2 separate regions of the Homo sapiens genome follow, and region 2 is linked to region 1. Evidence: fine-mapped QTL for protein levels in blood plasma. A gene starts in region 1. The other region holds a variant in brackets. All regions are shown on one strand. Distances are between the middles of the regions. Region 1 holds the start of CXCL6 (C-X-C motif chemokine ligand 6). Region 2 overlaps CXCL1 (C-X-C motif chemokine ligand 1).

The links. A credible set is the group of variants that fine-mapping cannot tell apart. PIP is the chance, under the fine-mapping model, that this variant and not a neighbour inherited with it causes the effect. Protein levels are from antibody-based Olink assays in UK Biobank. Linkage for the fine-mapping came from a reference panel and not from the study's own genotypes, which makes the PIPs less certain.
Region 2: its variant is the best candidate, but not a certain one, in a credible set for the plasma level of the CXCL6 protein (UK Biobank, PIP 0.60).

Annotation. Positions count from the first base shown.
Region 1 is chr4:73,834,114-73,839,113 of GRCh38, reverse strand. CXCL6 (C-X-C motif chemokine ligand 6) reads right to left here and starts at 2,436. Exons shown (of 4, transcript NM_002993.4): 1 at 2,255-2,436; 2 at 2,018-2,150; 3 at 1,828-1,911; 4 at 354-1,491. The coding sequence starts at 2,363. The coding sequence ends at 1,473. RefSeq lists a silencer at 2,168-2,462.
Region 2 is chr4:73,870,721-73,876,240 of GRCh38, reverse strand. It overlaps CXCL1 (C-X-C motif chemokine ligand 1), which reads right to left. Exons shown (of 4, transcript NM_001511.4): 4 at 4,933-5,520. Among named protein-coding and RNA genes, the nearest start is that of CXCL1, 4.1 kb to the right of the region's middle. The variant A/G (reference allele first, on the strand shown) is at 4,487.

The DNA.
Region 1 (5,000 bases):
AGTGAATGTGAGGCACAAGGGAAGTTGAAGTACTGATGATCAGGAGTGAGATGAGACAGAACCTCATTCATCATGTTTAGCAACTTTTATTTCATGTCTAGGAAACAGGGAGCCATTTAAGAATTTAGATAGGAAAATCTTATCCTATTTGTGTTTTCTAAAGACCCCAGAGGCTATTGGTGCTGTGAAGGAGTAACTGGAAGGGGGCTGAACATGGAGAAAAGTTGAACCAATGCAATGGTATTGGGGAATGAGGGCCCTCTCTGCCAGCCAGAGAAGAGCAGAGGTAATATTTTGAATAATGTAGAATTAAAGATAAATAGTAACTGTATAAGAAGGAGAAACAACATCAGTGGTTTAGAAATCTTTTATTGTTTCTCCAAATGACAATACAAGTACCAAAAACCAACATGACACACAGGAAAAAATAAAAGTGCAATTTTAATATAGTGAATGTGATACATGTATAATTCCTCATAACAAAATGGTCAAAACCTTTAAAAGATCCACAATAGATATCTGAAAATCTTAGCAATGCTATATATATTTTGAGGACTAAATGATGAATTTATATTCAAATTGTTCAAATATATTTTCAAAACTTTCAGAGCACAGATCATTGTTAATTTTGCTTTTATTTAAAAAACCAAGAGAATACATTTCTATGTAAATTAGCAATCAGGAATTTATCTGTTTTTGGGCTTCTTCATCTATCTAAAGTGTATATTTAGTGACCAGAATTATAGTCATCCTATAGTGAAAAAATAGCATACAAAATCAAAGTTTAATGAGTAAATCATGACATTATGCCATACTAAGAAGACATCAAACGTCTAAAACCATAGGAAGAGAATATATTAGCCCTTACAGAACTTAAATTTTTAGAAATTCTGAATAAGGAAATATATTCTGCACAGATAACGGTATGACACACCCAGTGTTCTAATACAGTACAACTTAAATAGCATCCTAGGGTAAAGAGTAACATATTCCCCAAGAAACAGAACTAAAATATTTCCTATTTTATGAGAAGAGTGAGTAAGAACAACAGGATACCTCCCTCAACAGCACACTAATAAAACATTATTTCCATACGAAATCCACAGCCTTTTCGGTAAGACTTTAAGGAATGTATGATAGAAATACAATAGTTATCTTCAATTCAATATTCATTGAAAGACTAATAACCAGTGATTCTTTGCTCACAATATGGTCAATTGCCAAAGGGTTCAATAACTTATCAGGTAAAATAACAGTAAATAGTGGAAATACTATATTAGTACTTCATTAGCTGAGCTGTAAACTTCAGGGAGAAGCGTAGGCTTTCCCCCACACTCTTCAAAGTAGGGAATCCATGTAGAAAATGGAAAAAAACCAACCCTTCCTTCTTATTCTTACTGGGTCCAGGGATCTCCAGAAAACTGCTCCGCTGAAGACTGGGCAATTTTATGATGCATGGTCTTTTTTGTTACTCAGTTTTTCTTGTTTCCACTGTTGAGAAAAGAGTTATATTAGTATAACCAATTCCCACACTCTTGTATGCTACATTTGGTTTTCAAAAGCGTTTGGTGGGGGAAAAAAATCAATAAAAGCAAAGAGCAGACAAAAAATAGATGTCAGTAATGAGCTCTGTGTAATTGTTCAGGCATGTAAGATTGGTGATAAAGGTTTACCCAGAACATTCCAGAAAAAAAGTTTCCTTATTCTTCTTAACAACCTTATAATTCTAAGCATAGTCTAAATCCTACAGAGAGAATAAGGACATTGTGAAGTATATGCTTTCCATAGAAGATATTAAAACACCACAAAGATCAAAGGGACAAATACCTGTCCAAAATTTTCTGGATGACTTTCTTTAGAAAAGGGGCTTCCGGGTCCAGACAAACTTGCTTCCCGTTCTTCAGGGAGGCTCTGAAGTAAAGAAAAAGAGGATGCACCCATGAGCCACAAAGGTTGACGACCCAGGCTGGAGGACTTGCCTAAGTCACAGTGGACACAGCAACACAGGAGAACTTACACCACTTCCACCTTGGAGCACTGCGGGCCTGCGGGGAACACCTGCAGTTTACCAATCGTTTTGGGGTTTACTCTCAGCGTAACGCGTAAACAAGTGCAACGCAGCTCTGTCAGCACAGCAGAGACAGGACCAGCTGGGGAAGAAAGACATTTTTATAGGGCAGGTTGCTGGGAGAGTTCCCTGGAACGCAGCGGCCCCGCAGAGGCTGGGATGCACCCCAGTGCCAGGAGCTCTCACCGCTGGCGAGGGGCCCCGGCGGCGTCAGCAGGAGCAGCAGCGCGAGCAGCGCGCACAAGGAGCCCGAAGGACCCGGGACACGGGCCGCGCGGCTGGACGGGAGGCTCATAGTGGTCAAGAGAGGGTTCGCGGGTTCCTGAGCTGGGTGGAGGCGCGGAGACTGGAGGATACAGAGCACTTTGGTTTCCTCGTGCCTTCTGCACTCCCTTTATCTGCATTCATCCCTCCCGACTGGCAGGAAACTCAAGCTTTGGGATGCTGGGGAAATTCCCTGAACTCAGGGGGCAGTGTGGAAAGAAGGGGTTGGTGGAGGGGGGCGGGAGGATGGGAATTGGTGGGGTGGGTGGCTGGGAGGAGCTGCCTGCTCCCTTAAGGGGGAGGACATTTTAGCCCCGCCCCGCGGTGGAGGGAGCTGTGGCTCCAGCCAAAATAGAGCAGCGATTCAGCAGGGTCTCATCCCCTGGGCTTGAGGGGTTAGCGAGGCTGGCTTCTCTGAGGCACGCAGCTGTCTGGGAGATGCTCCTCCTCTCCAATGGCCAGGACAATTAGGCAGGAGAAGGAAATAAAGGGTATTCAATTAGGAAAAGAGGAAGTCAAATTGTCCCTATTTGCAAATTACATAATTGTATATCTAGAAAACCCCATGGTCTCAGCCCAAAATCTCCTTAAGCTGATAAGCAACTTCAGCAAAGTCTCAGGATACAAAATCAATGCACAAAAATCACAAGCATTCTTATACACCAATAACAAACAAACAGAGACATGGTCTCAGCCCAAAATCTCCTTAAGCTGATAAGCAACTTCAGCAAAGTCTCAGGATACAAAATCAATGCACAAAAATCACAAGCATTCTTATACACCAATAACAAACAAACAGAGAGCCAAATCATGAGTGAACTCCCATTCACAATTGCTTCAAAGAGAATAAAATACCTAGGAATCCAACTTACAAGGGACATGAAGGACCTCTTCAAGGAGAACTACAAACCACTGCTCAATGAAATAAAAGAGGATACAAACAAATGGAAGAATATTCCATGCTCATGGGTAGGAAAAATCAATATCGTGAATATGGCCATACTGCCCAAGGTAACTTATAGATTCAATACCATCCCCATCAAGCTACCAATGACTTTCTTCACAGAATTGGAAAAAACTACTTGAAAGTTCATATGGAACCAAAAAAGAGCCCGCATGGCCAAGTCAATCCTAAGCCAAAAGAACCAAGCTGGAGGCATCACGCTACCTGACTTCAAACTATACTACAAGGCTACAGTAACCAAAACAGCATGGTACTGGTACCAAAACAGAGATATAGATCAATGGAACAGAACAGAGCCCTCAGAAATAATGCCGCATATCTACAACTATCTGATCTTTGACAAACCTGAGAAAAACAAGCAATAGGGAAAGGATTCCCTATTTAATAAATGGTGCTGGGAAAACTGGCTAGCCATATGTAGAAAGCTGAAACTGGATCCCTTCCTTACACCTTATACAAAAATTAATTCAAGATGGATTAAAGACTTAAACGTTAGACCTGAAACCATAAAAACCCTAGAAGAAAACCTAGGCATTACCCATTCAGGACATAGGCATGGGCAAGGTCTTCATGTATAAAACACCAAAAGCAATGGCAACAAAAGCCAAAATTGACAAATGGGATCTAATTAAACTCAAGAGCTTCTGCACAGCAAAAGAAACTACCATCAGAGTGAACAGGCAACCTACAAAATGGGAGAAAATTTTCGCGACCTACTCATCTGACAAAGGGCTAATATCCAGAACCTACAATGAACTCAAACAAATTTACAACAAAAAAACAAACAACCCCATCAAAAAGTGGATGAAGGACATGAACAGACACTTCTCAAGACATTTATGCAGCCAAAAAACACATGAAACAATGCTCACCATCACTGGCCATCAGAGAAATGCAAATCAAAACCACAATGAGATACCATCTCACACCAGTTAGAATGGCAATCATTAAAAAGTCAGGAAACAACAGGTGCTGGAGAGGATGTGGAGAAATGGGAACACTTTTACACTGTTGGTGGGACTGTAAACTAGTTCAACCAGTGTGGAAGTCAGTGTGGCGATTCCTCAGGGATCTAGAACTACAAATACCATTTGACCCAGCCGTCCCATTACTGGGTATATACCCAAAGGACTATAAATCATGCTGCTATAAAGACACATGCACACGAATGTTTATTGCAGCACTATTCACAATAGCAAAGACTTGGAACCAACCCAAATGTCCAACAATGATAGACTGGATTAAGAAAATGTGGCACATATACACCATGGAATACTATGCAGCCATAAAAAAGGATGAGTTCATGTCCTTTGTAGGGACGTGGATGAAATTGGAAATCATCATTCTCAGTAAACTATCGCAAGGACAAAAAACCAAACACCGCATGTTCTCACTCATAGGTGGGAATTGAACAAGGAGAACACATGGACACAGGAAGGGGAACATCACACTCTGGGGACTGTTGTGGGCTGGGGGGAGGGGGGAGGGATAGCATTAGGAGATGTACCTAATGCTAAATGACGAGTTAATGGGTGCAGCACACCAGCATGGCACATGTATAGATATGTAACTAACCTGCACATTGTGCACATGTACCCTAAAACTTAAAGTATAATAATAATAAAATTAAAAAAAAGAGAGAAAAGTTGGAACCATAGTAGTGGAAGCTTTGACTTGAGAAAAATTTCTGAAAGTCAATCCTTT
Region 2 (5,520 bases), 37 kb before region 1:
TTTGGCCAATAGGAAGTGTTAAAAGTGATGATGTAGATGTTCCAGGCCAACAAGGTAAGAAGCCTAGGAGTTTCTACCCCTGCTCTGTTAAAATGCAGCTGCCACCATATGAGGATAGCCAAGCTCATGAGGCCCAGGCAATGACTAGTGCAAAAAACCAGACATGTGAGTGAGGCAGCTGCACTCGGTCACCAAGTGTCACCTGGTGACTCCAGGAGACACCATCAGAAGAACTACCTGAGCCAAGCCCAGGTTGTTGTATTGCCTAGCCCAAATTGATGGTCATGTGTCAAAATAAAATGGTGACTGTTTAAACCCACTGCATTTTCGGGAGACAATAGATGATTAATAGAGTAATTTAGCCAGTAAATTGGCTGAACTCATTTTATACTTTGAATTATTTGGCTACAATATGCACAATGTTTTCTTTAAACTTTCTTAAAGTGGCACATGGCGTGAATGGCTATTAGCTATTAATTAGTACTCTGAGAATGGTTCTACAAATTTTAGAAAGCCAATCCTGTAGCCAAAATTTAGGATAACTGTCTTCTTGAGCAGTCATGAAAATAATCTAGTTTAATAAAAATCACTGTGTATTAGTCATCAGAAAACCAAACTCTGACCCACTTTTGTAATAAAATAATTCCATGGCATTTGGTAACTCCTTGGTGGTTTCTGAGCCTTTGTAGTTCCATCTATAAAATGAGAAGGCTGATTTTCTTTTTCTTGTGATCTCTCAAGTTTTGAACCAAACTCCTGTCTGGCTGTCAAGGGATCAGTCCCTAGTCTCAACATTTTATTTATTTATTTCTCACCATATGATCTGGCTTCTTTTTTAGGAGATTCTTGAAAGCAACAGTAGCATTTCTAACTACTTTTCACTTAAAAAAAGAAAGATTTATTACTTTTAATGTGGAGAACAAAAATGTCAGTTGGAGTCCTCACCTTTTCAAAGGTGAAAATGAGGTCCTGACTATGGTTTAGTAGACTCTTTCTCCCTGCTTTAGTACCTTGTGGATCCAGATTCCACATTTTTATTTTAAGCATAGCCAAGGAATAGAAATCAGAGGCTGATGCCCTGCTGTTAGGAAGATTTATGACTCTGCTATAAACACAACAACTACAATTTCTTGGTTTGAGCAGGTTTCATAGTTTCTGCAGATGAGGAAAGCAAACACTCACAACAGCCCCTTTGTGAGGTCAAGAACTCAGTTGTGTGCAGCAATGGCCAGTGTGGTTCTGCTCTCTTCTATCATGAGCTTTCACTTGTTTCTGCCTCACTTCCCATTTTTCTTCCTCTTGGTTTTCTGGCATTATACTCCTCAATAAAATAGTAGTCATAAGCCTCTGCTATGAGGTCTAATTTCTGGGGGGCCCAACTGTCTAAGTTTGGGCTCCCCCAAAACAGAGTCTGATAAAAGACTTATGCGCAGTAGTTTATCTTACAGGTGATCATGGAAAGAACAAGTGAAGGAGTGGGGGAATGTGGGATAGGGAAGAGAGAAAATCTAATAAAGTGTATGTAATGAATGAGCTATCATTTGTGCAACCAGGGCTTCATCTTGCCATGGAGTCTCAAGGAAACCTTGTAAAATGTTCCTCAGAATTGTCCCAATAAGACTTCAATTTCCAGTCACGTTGAAGTAAAACAGAAGTCATAACTTCCTGTCTTAAGCAACTAGAAAATGCAACACAATATATGAAGCAATTGTTATCAGACATTGGACAACAAGCAGCAAAAGGCTAGAATTCCTCAGAAAAGGAAATAAACAAGGTGAGGTGTATGGTGATCTTGGTTTTTTTCTGGAGCAACTCTGGACCACCGTGCAAGGGGAGAGATCCAAAGTAGACCATGGTAGTCTTACTGAGTTGAGGGGGCACAGGTTTGAATTCAAGGGAGCTGGGGTGGCTAGAAGTTTAGGAAAAAAGAGTTGTAGAAAGGGGAGATCTATGCAAGAAACCAGAACTCCATAAATCTGCACTGAGGTCCCACTGGGTCTCTTTGATCAGTACTAAGTCACACACGCACGGTGGGGGAAACTCCATAAGTCAAGCAAAGAGTAACTAGAGATTTGTAAGCTGAGAAAACCTCAGACCTAGCATGGAATGAGGAGATAGTTAAGGTCTACCCTGTCGTAGTAGAGAGAACCTGTGAGCACTCAGGGCATTCACTAACGGCACAAGAAGGACATGACTTAGTAGTACAGCTAAACAAACCCTAGAGTGAAGAACATTCCTAGACCACCCTAACAAAGCTCAACAACAAGCCCCAAAGAGACAAAGCTGATGCCCTAGAACTTACCTGCTTGTCAAAATGGAGCCCAAGACTCTAAAGAAAGAGAACAAATCTTGACACTCAGCAACATAAGATTCAAAATTTCCTGCAGTCAAATGAAAATGATTATACATGCTAAGAAGTAGAACAGCATGAGTTATATAAGAGAAAAAAAATCAAGTAAATATAGATTCAGAAGTGACAGAATGATAGACTTAGCATACCAAGATTTTAAAATAACTATCTTAATTATGCTCAGGTGTGTAAAGAAGGTGTAAACATAATGAAGAGGGAAGTGGAACATTTCATCTATTCATATGTCTTTTTAATATTTATTTATTTTAATACACTATCTATAAAATTTAAACACACACATATATATGGAGAGAGAGATAGGAAATTCTAGAATTATCTAACAAGAGACTGGGAAAATTGAATATTCATCCTTTAACTCCTATCTCTCCTCTCAGGGCATCAAATCACAGGCCATCCTAGCTGTGGGCTGAGAAATCTCTCTCTGCCAAGCCCCCTTTCCCACACCTCAATGGAGGAAGCCCCCAGGAAGAGATGCAGAAGAACAAGTGCCTTAAGTTGGGAAGCTGTTATACATTGCAGCTGTTGTACTCATTGTGAGGGGAGTGGGACATCATTGGTGAAGACAGGCAGGTCCTTTTTTAAATTATGTGATTGGGTAGCCAGAAAAGACAAACTGTGTGATCTGTTTTTCTGGATTTCCCTCACTGTGCTATTGTGGGTCTGCCACCTCCACCATCCCTTAACGTCTCTCCAGTTACTTCTGGAACACCTGAGAGGGTGTCTCAGGAGGACTCACAATGATAGAATAGCGTTAGCCACGTCTCCTTCTTTCCTTCTCTAGACCCCATGGTAACATTGCTCAAGAAACCTCAGTCACTGTGATCATTGCTGTTTCCTGCTGATGGCTTCTCAAAACTGTGATGTGTTATGTAATATCCTTTTCCTACTTCCTTCACCCTGTGACTACCACGCCAAAAACGCTGTATCCTACTTCCTGCTATAACACTCCCAACAGGAGACTGCCTTGTACTTGCAAGTTTTCAGAGCAATTTGGTGTGAAAACACAATTTACATATCTGCTTGATCTAAGACTGAGACTGAGACCATGTCCATGGAGTTGGCCTGAGGACCAATGGCAAGAACCAGGTTTCCAGAGCCTCCATAACATTTAATTCTTACAACACTTCAGAAGGCTAATTTTATTATCCTCATCCTATAGAAAGGAAAATGAGGTTGAGTGAAGTAAAGAAACTTGCCCAAGATCACAGTGACAGAGCTGGAATTTACACCAAAGTCAATCTGATCCTTTGAAATCTGTCTTTAACCACCATGTGAATAAAAGCATCTCTTTTGTCCTTTTTATGTTCCCTGTTCCATATTAGCCAGAGCTAGGTAGCCAGTACAGCAAGCTCCAATGTTTGAGGGTAAGGACTTGTCTTAGGTGTAAGGAGTGGTTTTATTGAACCCTTGGATGCTACTTGTAAACATTTTCCAGTGTCCTCTAACTTGGGGTTAGGGAGTGAATGCTACCATTTATGGAGTTTCTCAAATGGTTTGCATTTATTTGCTTATGTATAGTTTACAAATATTCTTCTTCCTCATCTCATTCATAATTAACTAATAATGTTGGAATTATGAAGAGATTCTTGTTTTTAACTTTTTTAGTTGTGAGAAAAGCTCACAGAGTTTGTTTCTTGTTGCTTATGACCTCTATTTGCCCAGCTTCTTGGGATGATCCAGAATTTGATTTGAAGTATTGAGGCTGCCAGTCTCACCTTCTTGCCTCTGTTAGAGGCAGTTACCCAGGGCTCAGGATTTCTGAATGAGTTCTGAATCAGAAACAAGCACACACCTCATGCATGCACGAACATCCTTCCTTTTCAGGTTTGGAGTGTGGTTTCTTTTATATTATTGGGGTATTTCTTCCTTAGACATGCCAATTTTGCTTCTGTCCTAAAAACCTGTAGTGCTGCTGCTGTTCTGGGACAGCATTGAATACAGAGTTCCCCAGAAGGCAACCGCTCTATGAGGTCCCATCAAAATTCCACTAGGAACGATGCAAATGAATGCAGTCCAATCTTAAAACCATTATAGTTGGTATATTGCTATAAAGGATTGAAACACCGCAAATCTTAGTGCTAATTACTTATATGTGAAGGCTAGAAAGCTGAGCCC[A/G]AATTTCAATCAGATCTTTTCACAGGTGAAGCATTCAGCCACTCACTTTTGCTTCTATTGACGACACAAATGATTTGAGTTTTGAAAAACGAAATATTTTAGCCACCATTTCACTGCCAGCTTCATTAAATTGTCAACAATTATGAGAAATATTGTTCAACAAAAGCAATGAAATGAGAGCCCTTGTTAAGATAATATAAATATTTTTAAGGAGGTAAATTTGAGTAGCAAGACAGAAAGAAACTTCTTATAAAAAGGGCAATTTATATCAGTGACTCTCCCATTAGGGGCCAGCCCATAGTTTAGTAAAGCGCATTCTTCACTAGGTGAGAGCCAAGGGTATTGGCAGCAATCACCGCATGAAATGAAGCATAACTCATAGTTTGATTTATCTGTATAGCAAATTGAACACCCAGAAAAATAAACACAATTAAAAAATTGAGAAATATTGATATAAATCACCAGATTTTCCAGTAAAGGTAGCCCTTGTTTCCCCCCAAAAATCAAACGAGTTTTTTCTATAAGTGCTTTATTTTTATATTCTCTATGAAAACATCAATAATTAAGCCCCTTTGTTCTAAGCCAGAAACACTGTAAAACTACCATTAAACAAGGCAGTATGCCTTACAAGAAAGACATAAAATGTCCAAGGGATATTTAGAACATTTTAGTTCTTAAAGTTTCAACATGAGAAATGTTGACCACACACTGTGAAATCATTTCAATAAATAACAACTGACATTCATCTAAACAGTTACAAAACAGATGTGCACATACATTCCCCTGCCTTCACAATGATCTCATTGGCCATTTGCTTGGATCCGCCAGCCTCTATCACAGTGGCTGGCATGTTGCAGGCTCCTCAGAAATATTAACATAATGACTGGAGAACATTTGAAAACATTCTACCTTCAAATTAAATATGAATCCAGATTGAACTAACTTGGGGTTGACATTTCAAAAAGAATGAATATAATAGGACAGTGTGCAGGTAGAGTTAATCATACCCTTAATTATTTTACACCTAAAATATT